Homo sapiens: one gene and its partner. The protein of the gene in region 1 interacts with the protein of each later gene in a pairwise test. Each region holds a gene or a part of one and is shown in the gene's direction. Other genes may lie near its edges. The genes, in order: MKKS and BBS12.

Region 1 (3,921 bases):
TGGATCACCTGAGGTCAGGAGTTCGAGAACAACCCGGCCAACATGGCGAACCCTGTCTCTACTAAAAATACAAAAATTAGCCGGGGGTGGTGGCGCGCGCCTGTAATCCCAGCTACTGGGAACGCTGAGGCAGGAGAATTGCTTGAACCCGGGGGGCGGAGATGGCAGTGAGCCAAGATCGCGCCACTGCACTCCAACCTGGGCAACAGAGCGAGACTCCATCTAAAAAAAAAAAGAAAGAAAGAAAGGGCTGTATCTTTAGCCCATGCCCTGAATCAATGTTCCTTGAACTTTAAGGTACACTTCTTGAGGAAGATTCTGATTCAGCAGCTCTGGGGTGAGAGTCATGAAGTGTAATTCTAACAAGCTCCCAGGGATGCTGATGCTGGTGGTAGGTGAAATGAACTTGGAGCAACAAGGCCCTAAGTAACTGGAATATTAGTTTTAACGCTAGCCAACTGGCTTACAAATATCGTTATGTCTAGGATCCAAGAAGTAAGTGTCAATACCATTAATTCCTACACCCGGCCAAAAAAATTAAAAACTAAAAATAAAAAAAAATAGTTCAGGGGAAGGAGAAAGCAAATACTTGTTTATACAGTCTAGCAGTGCTAAGAACCATAAAATACTGTTATTTGTCTCAACCTAGTAGATGTCAAGGTGATAAAATGTAGGCTCCATGAGTTAATGGATTTTTTTTAGCTAACTCCTGAATCCTTATGGCCTAGCACAAATTAGGTACTCAAGAAATGCAATGAATAAATGAATGAATGGGAAGTATATACAAACGCAATCTGTATTTACCTCACATCTCCAAAAATGTCTGGGAAGGGGGAGGTATTTGTACTGCTGGATGCAGGTAGCCATGATTTGATACAAATACCTGGCCCATCTACTGCATTCCCTTTGTGCAAAGACAGTTAACTTTCCTGAATAATATCTCCACCGTAATGCCCATGCTCATGGCATCCTGATGTTTAGCAACTTTTTGGCTTTTTGAAAACAATGAAGAAAGGTGGAAGTACAGGGAGAAGGATTCGGAAAAGTCTCAAAAAATCAAAGCCAAAAACCAGGAGGGAGGAGATGGGCAAACAGTTCAGTTCACTTGAAGGAACATCTGAGGTTGTCAGAGGTCCATGTGCTTACCTATGATGGTGGCGGGGTTTGGGCTCGGGCTTTATATGTTTTGTTACTGTCCAGGGTCACTGGCGGAGTAGTACCTGGCTGTGGAAACTCGGACTACACAGGTAGCCGGAACTGCAGCCAACCTTCAGAAGCTTAAGGGAAGCACTTTCGCGCTTACTTCCTCCTTCCCAGGGTCTCCGCGCGCGTTTGGGAACTCAGCCGCCGCCCAAACACAAAATGATCTGGGCAGCTTCGCTGCAGGATTGAGGCCACAGCCAGGATTTAAGATGGCAGCGAAACACTTCGATGGCCCGTGGAATCTGCCCAAAAGAAAAATGGCCTCTGTTCAGAATATCGCGGCTTTCAAAGTGGGCCCAAAACAAAAATGGCGCCGGACGCAGGCTATTTTTAAAGGCTGGGACCCCAATGACTCTCATTAGCAAATAACGTATCATGGTAACTCACGGTGCTAGGCAGTTGAACTGACCGAGAGAAAAAAAAACGCTTTTCTGTGGTGTGTTTTCTTAACATTGGAAAATGACTAGCTCAAGAATGGAACATATATTCGGTGCGAAAGATTGTGAGAAAGGAAAGGTAGCTTTCACAGTGCCGGATAAATTTTAATAAAAATAGCCATGTTTGAACATAACTTCCTATATGTTTTTTAATGTTAAAAGAGAATAAAAGTTTTGTCCTGGAACCCAGAAGCAGGATGGGGAAATGCCGGGTGAATTATCTAATCTGTGAAGAGTACGAGCTGCGAAACTCCGCACTTCCCTGTAAGCCCTCAGGAAGGACTGAGGGCGGATGCTTTAGTAGAAGGCAACTAGCTCTCACGGCGCATGTCCGTTTTCCAAACCCGATCCCGGGAGTTACGGGAGAGTAAAAATCCTGATTTTCCAGACAACCGCACAGAGAGGCGGGATACTGGCGCTGAGCGACAAATCCAAGCGCTTTGTAATTGGTCATGTCAGGACAGAGAGCAGAGCGCAGTGGACTATTTCTTTCTTTCATTCAATAAATCATTGTCAAGCGCTCACCAAAAGGCAGAAGCTGTGCCATTTTGATATGTTATTTAAATTTTATGCGTTCTTTTAAAATTTCAGTTTCAACAATTTGCTGGAATATACGCTGAATAAACTTCGCTCCCCGTTTTTTCCGGTGACGGCCGCTGTTGGCTGGAGCTTCACGGAAAACCCGGAGAAGCGGAGTGGGGGCGGCCCGGCGTCGACCGCAGAGCTGCGCGTGCTCCGTGCCCTCGCGCGACGCGAAGGTTGTCGGGATCCGCGGCAGCAGCGGCTGCTTGAGATCTGTTTCTGGGGCCTCTGGCGGTGGCGGCCTGGGGCGGCGCGACGGCTGGTGCGCAGGTGAGAGCGCTGGGACTCTAGGTGGAAAAGCCCGCTTTGTGTCCGGCCGAAGAGAGGGGAAGGGGCTTGTAGGCGCCTCCCTCTCCACCCCCAAAGGTCACCGGTGTCCTCACTGAAGGATATTTGAGGGCGGGGACAAGGAGGAGGCTGGCTCTCTGTAGGAGGCGAAAGACCGACCTCTGAAATAGCTGCCGATGGTAAATGTTGCGGTCGGCACGGATGCGGGCGGCGAGGAGGTCTTCCCGCCGGTGGGGAGAGCTGGAGGAGTGGCGCCTCACCACGCTCCCACCTGCGCTGCCGCCTTCTACGCCGAACCTGTGACTCCCCGTCCCCTCCCTCGCTGGGAGGGGCCCCGTGTGCCCCTGACTGTCTGGAGGGTGCACGGTGTACCCCAGGCTGTCGGGAGGTGGGGGCCGCCCTCCGACGGCGTTAGAGACGTTGTGCAGCGTGGCCCTGCCAGCTACGTGAAAGCAGCCGCGGGGCTTGCAGGGCTGTGGACCTTGTAGGGATGACCCTCTAAGGTCATGCTCGTCTTCCTCCCCGATAAGACCATACCCAAATCCTGTTGCCGTTTCAGAGACTCAATATGACGGTTTCATTCATTCATTAACATCTTCAGTTTATCCATAAACAGATATACACGTGTCTACAGCACTGCCGAGTTAGTAGATACGGCAGTGACCAAGAGGGACTTGCACGGTCCTGACTCCATGTTCTAGTGATGGGGGAGAAACAATACGCTCCCTATCCATGAGTTCCGCATGTGTGAATTCAACCAACTGCGGATAGAAAATATTTTGGGGCGGCGGGGTTTGGTGGCTCACCCCTGTAACCCCGCACTTTAGGAGCCCGAGGCGGGCGGATCACTTGAGTCAGGAGTTTGGGGCCAGCCAGGCCAACGTGGCGAAACCCGGTCTCTGCTAAAAGTACAAAAAAATGAGCCGGGCGCAGTGGCGCACGCCTGTAATCCCAGCTACTTGGGAGGTTGAGGCAGGAGAATCGCTTGAGCCCTGGAGGCGGAGGTTGCGGTGAGCGGAGATCACGCCACTGCACTCCAGGTTGGGCGACAGAGACTCTATTTAAGAAAATAAATAAATAAAAACATTCTGGGGGAAAAAAGATGGTTACATCTGTACTGAACACGTGCAGACCTTTTTTCTTGTCATTCCCTAAACACTGCAGTGTAACAACTACTTACATAGCATTTAACGTTGTATTAGGTATTATAAGTAGCCTAGAGATTATTTAAGGTACATGGAAGGAGGTGGCAAGTTGTGTACAAAACTACACGATTTTTTTTTTTTTTTTTTTTTTTTTTGACAAAGAGTCTCGCTCTGTCGCGCAGGCTGAAGCTGGATCTCTGCTCACTGTGCAACCTCCGCCTCCCGGGTTCAAGCAATTCTCCCTGCCTTAGCCTCCGGAGAAGTTT
Region 2 (3,921 bases), on another chromosome or scaffold:
TTAGAAGCAATTAAAGGGCCTCAACTAAGGCGGTGCCAAATAGGAATCAAGTCAACTCCAAGGATGGTTAAAACTTATATTCATGTTGGAGAAATACTAAAAGTACCGTCTGTTTTCTCTTGCTTCAGTTTTGTACTTAAATTTGGGGGAACAAATATGGTGAAAAAAATTCATTCACTTACCAAATATTTATAGAGTACTTGCTGTGTGTCAGGCAATATTGTAGGTACTCGGGATATACATCATTGACTAAAATTGCCTTCCTGGAAATTACATTCTAAGAGAGAGATGTAGTCTATAAAAAATAAATAAGTAAACTATATCCTATTTTATAAGGGAATAAGTGTTATGGGAAAAAGAAAGTATAACAGATGGAACAAATCCAGAGTACAGAGGGAAAAGAGGATTTGTGGTATTCTATAGAGTGCTCAGGGTAGGCCTCATTGAAAAGCAGAAAATTTGAGAAAATATTTGAAGGTGATGCAGCAATAGATTTCTTAGGGAAGAGCATTCCAGAAAGAGGGAACAACTAGAACAGAAACATTAAGATAGGGAACATGCAAAGCATTACAAAAAGAGGCCAGAACAAAGTGGCCAAGGGATAAAATAGTAAGTGATAAAGTCAGAAGGGTAAAGAAAGGACTGCAAATAGTTAGGGCATTGTAAGGACTTTGACTTCGACTCCAAGTGAAATGGGTAGGCCTTGCAAGATTTTGAGCCTAGGAGTGAAAGGATATGAGTTCATTTTTAAAAGGGACTCCTGTGTCAAAGGCATAAAGCTTTATTTTCTGAGTTAGAGGTTTTTAAACAGTAGAGTGACATGATTAGACTTCTGTATTGGGAATAGACTGGAGATGAGCAAACAGTTGATTTAGATAATAAAAGGCTAATCATGCCCATCAAGAAAATATTATAATTTTTCAAAATGCAGCTCCTGAAAGCATTGCATGTCTTATTACTCTAAACTGAGTACCTTAGACAAAACTGGACATAATCTTTTGAAAAAAAAAACTTATTCTGATGTCAAAATTCCAGTTAAGTTGTCTGACTCTGCTCTTCCATTACACACTTAGAAACTCAAAGAAACATTAAGCTGGCAAGTACTGAAAACAGAGAACTGTTTGTGGAAAACATTGGTGCATAACAGGACATGCATAGCAGGACAAGAATCAGATTGTGTCTGTGTAATGCCAAGAAGAGTTGCCAGAAGTACTTATCATCTTTGAAATTATCCACTTTGTTATCCCCTTTGCTGTTTTTGCCTTTTTATACCCCATCTCTTAGAGGATGGGGCATTTTTGTTTTGAGTTTTTATATTATGTTAATTATAGCCGACTGTAACCTGTTCAAAATAATAATTTAGGAGCTCTTCTAGAGTTGGGAATGCTGAGAATTTTTAAAAATTACTAAAACTTGGAATAGCTTTTTCAAATGCCAAAGCAGATTTGTCTTGAATATTGATTTTGATATCAGTTTTATGTGACTTTTTGCTTATACATTAGTTTTCTTTAAATAATTTCATGCCTTTTGTATCTAGGAAACTTTTTCACATAAATTAAATACAGATTAAATTTGAAATAGCCCATGACTGTTTCCATTCGCTCTAAGTTCTCTCTGACTTTTCTACTCGTAGTAATATCTTGTGATTTAAGCATAGTATAGAAAGGAGATCATAAGCAGAGACCCTGATACATGTACAAGTTAAGAGTATGAATAAGGTTTGGAAGAAGGCAGAAAGGTTTGGAAAAGGGAAACACAGTAAAAGATTCTAAAGAAGAGAGGGTGAATTACTATCATACTGGGCAAGGGGCACCTAAAAGGCAGAATTATATAGTAGTTAATAGCATAGGCTTTAACATTAGACAAACCTGGGTTTTAGTCCATAGCCTTTTACAAATTAGCTGTGAAATTTTGTATATGTTATGTAACTATTCTGCTTCATTTTCCACATCACTAAAATAGATTATAGTACCTCCCTCATGTTGTTGTGAATGAATACTACATTACATAATACTTGTAAAATGCCTCATACTTAGTAAGCTTTCATAACATGTTCGAAATGAAAAACAAAACCCAAAAGTCAATCTTTTCAAGCTTGTCCTTTCAACAAATTATTCTGGAGCAACTGGATATCCATGAGGAAAGAGGAACCCCTACCTCACACCATTTACAAAAGTTAATTTAAGATGACTTATGGACATAAATATAAAAGCTAAAACAAACGGAAGAACAAATTTGGCATCTCATACTTCCTGATTTCCAAACTTACTACAAAGCTATAGTACTTAAAACCTGTGGTACTGGCATAAGGATGAATGTATAGATCAGTGGAATTGAATTGAGAGTCCAGAAATCCATAGACATCTATGGCTAATTGATTTTTGACAAAGATGCTAAGGCCACTCCATGGGGAAAAGAATTGTCTCTTCAGCAAATGGTACTGGGACAATTGGATATCCACATGCAAAAGAATAAAGTTGGACTCCTACCTTACACTTTATATGTAAATTAACTCAAAATGGGTCAACAAACTAAATATAAGAGATGAAACTATAAAACTCTTTGAATAAAACATTGGGCTAAATCTTCATACCTTGGATTTGGCAATGGATTTTTAGATATGGCACAAATAATATGAGCAAACAAAAAAATAGGTAAATTAGATTTCATCAAACAACAACAAAAAAATAGGTAAATTAGATTTCTAATTTCTTTTTCTTTTTTTTTGAGACAGAGTCTCGCTCTGTTGCCCAGGTTGGAGTGTGCAATCTCGGCTCACTGCAGGCTCCACCTCCCGGGTTCACGCTGTTCTCCTGCCTCAGCCTCCTGAGTGGCTGGGACTACAGGTGCCTGTCACCATGCCCGGCTAATTTTTTTGTATTTTAACAGAGACGGGTTTCACTGTGTTAGCCAGGAATGGTCTCGATCTCCTGACCTCATGATCTGCCCACCTTGGCCTCCCAAAGTGCTGGGATTACAGGCGTGAGCCACTGTGCCTGGCCTAGATTTCTAATTTCTAACTAAAAACATTTGGTCATCAAAATGCATAATCCAAAAAGTGGAAACTGACTTACAGAATGAGAGAAAATGTTTGCAAATCATAGTTTGATAAGGATCTAGTGTCCAGAATGTATAAGGAACTCTTACAACTTACCAAAAAAAGACTAACTGCTCTATTTTTAAATGGTCAAAAGACTTGAATAGACATTTCTCCAAAAAAGATACACAAATGGCCAATGCACATGAAAAGATGCTCAATATGAGGAAAATGCAAGTCAAAAACACAATGAAATACCACTTCACATTCACTAGGATATCTATAATATTACAAAATATTACAAAAGCAAAAATGGAAAGTGTTCAGTATACTGGACTGAATATTTCCCCCCAGTTCATGTCCTTCTAGCATCTCAAAATGTGATCTTATTTGAAAATAGTTTCTTTGTAGATGTAATTAGCTAAAGTGAGGTCATACTGGATTAAGGTGGGCCCTAAATCCAATGACTGGTATCACTGGATTATAAGAAGGCTGTTTGAAACAGAGGCAGAGGTTAGAGTTATGCAGTCAGAAGCCAAGGACCACTAGGAGCAACTAGAAGCTGGAGGAAGCAAGGAAGGATTCTTCCCTTGATCCTTCAGAAGGAGCATGGACCTGCCAGCATTTTGATTTTGGGCTTCTAGACTCCAGAACTGTGAAAGAATAAATAAGTATTGTTTTAAGCTACCCAGTTGTTTGTGGTAATTTGGTATGGCAGCCCTAGGAAGCTGATGCAGTGAGGATGTGGAGAAATCAAAACCCTCATACATTGTTGGTGGGAATGTTCAGCTGTTATGGAAAACAGACAGTTCATTCAAAAGTTAAAGATATTTGCTCCTCCTTTTCATGCCTGTGGCTGGATGTCCCACAGCACTATAGGAAAT

The links.
Region 2: the proteins of MKKS (region 1) and BBS12 interact in binary tests that used the Homo sapiens proteins (3 or more experiments, as listed by UniProt).

Annotation. Positions count from the first base shown.
Region 1 is NC_000020.11:10,432,679-10,436,599, reverse strand, and holds the start of MKKS (molecular chaperone MKKS), read left to right. Parts: upstream 1-2,377; 5' UTR 2,378-2,492; intron 2,493-3,921. UniProt on the Homo sapiens protein: Probable molecular chaperone that assists the folding of proteins upon ATP hydrolysis. Plays a role in the assembly of BBSome, a complex involved in ciliogenesis regulating transports vesicles to the cilia.
Region 2 is NC_000004.12:122,735,508-122,739,428, forward strand, and holds part of BBS12 (chaperonin-containing T-complex member BBS12), read left to right. Parts: intron 1-3,865; exon of another isoform or gene 3,866-3,921. UniProt on the Homo sapiens protein: Component of the chaperonin-containing T-complex (TRiC), a molecular chaperone complex that assists the folding of proteins upon ATP hydrolysis.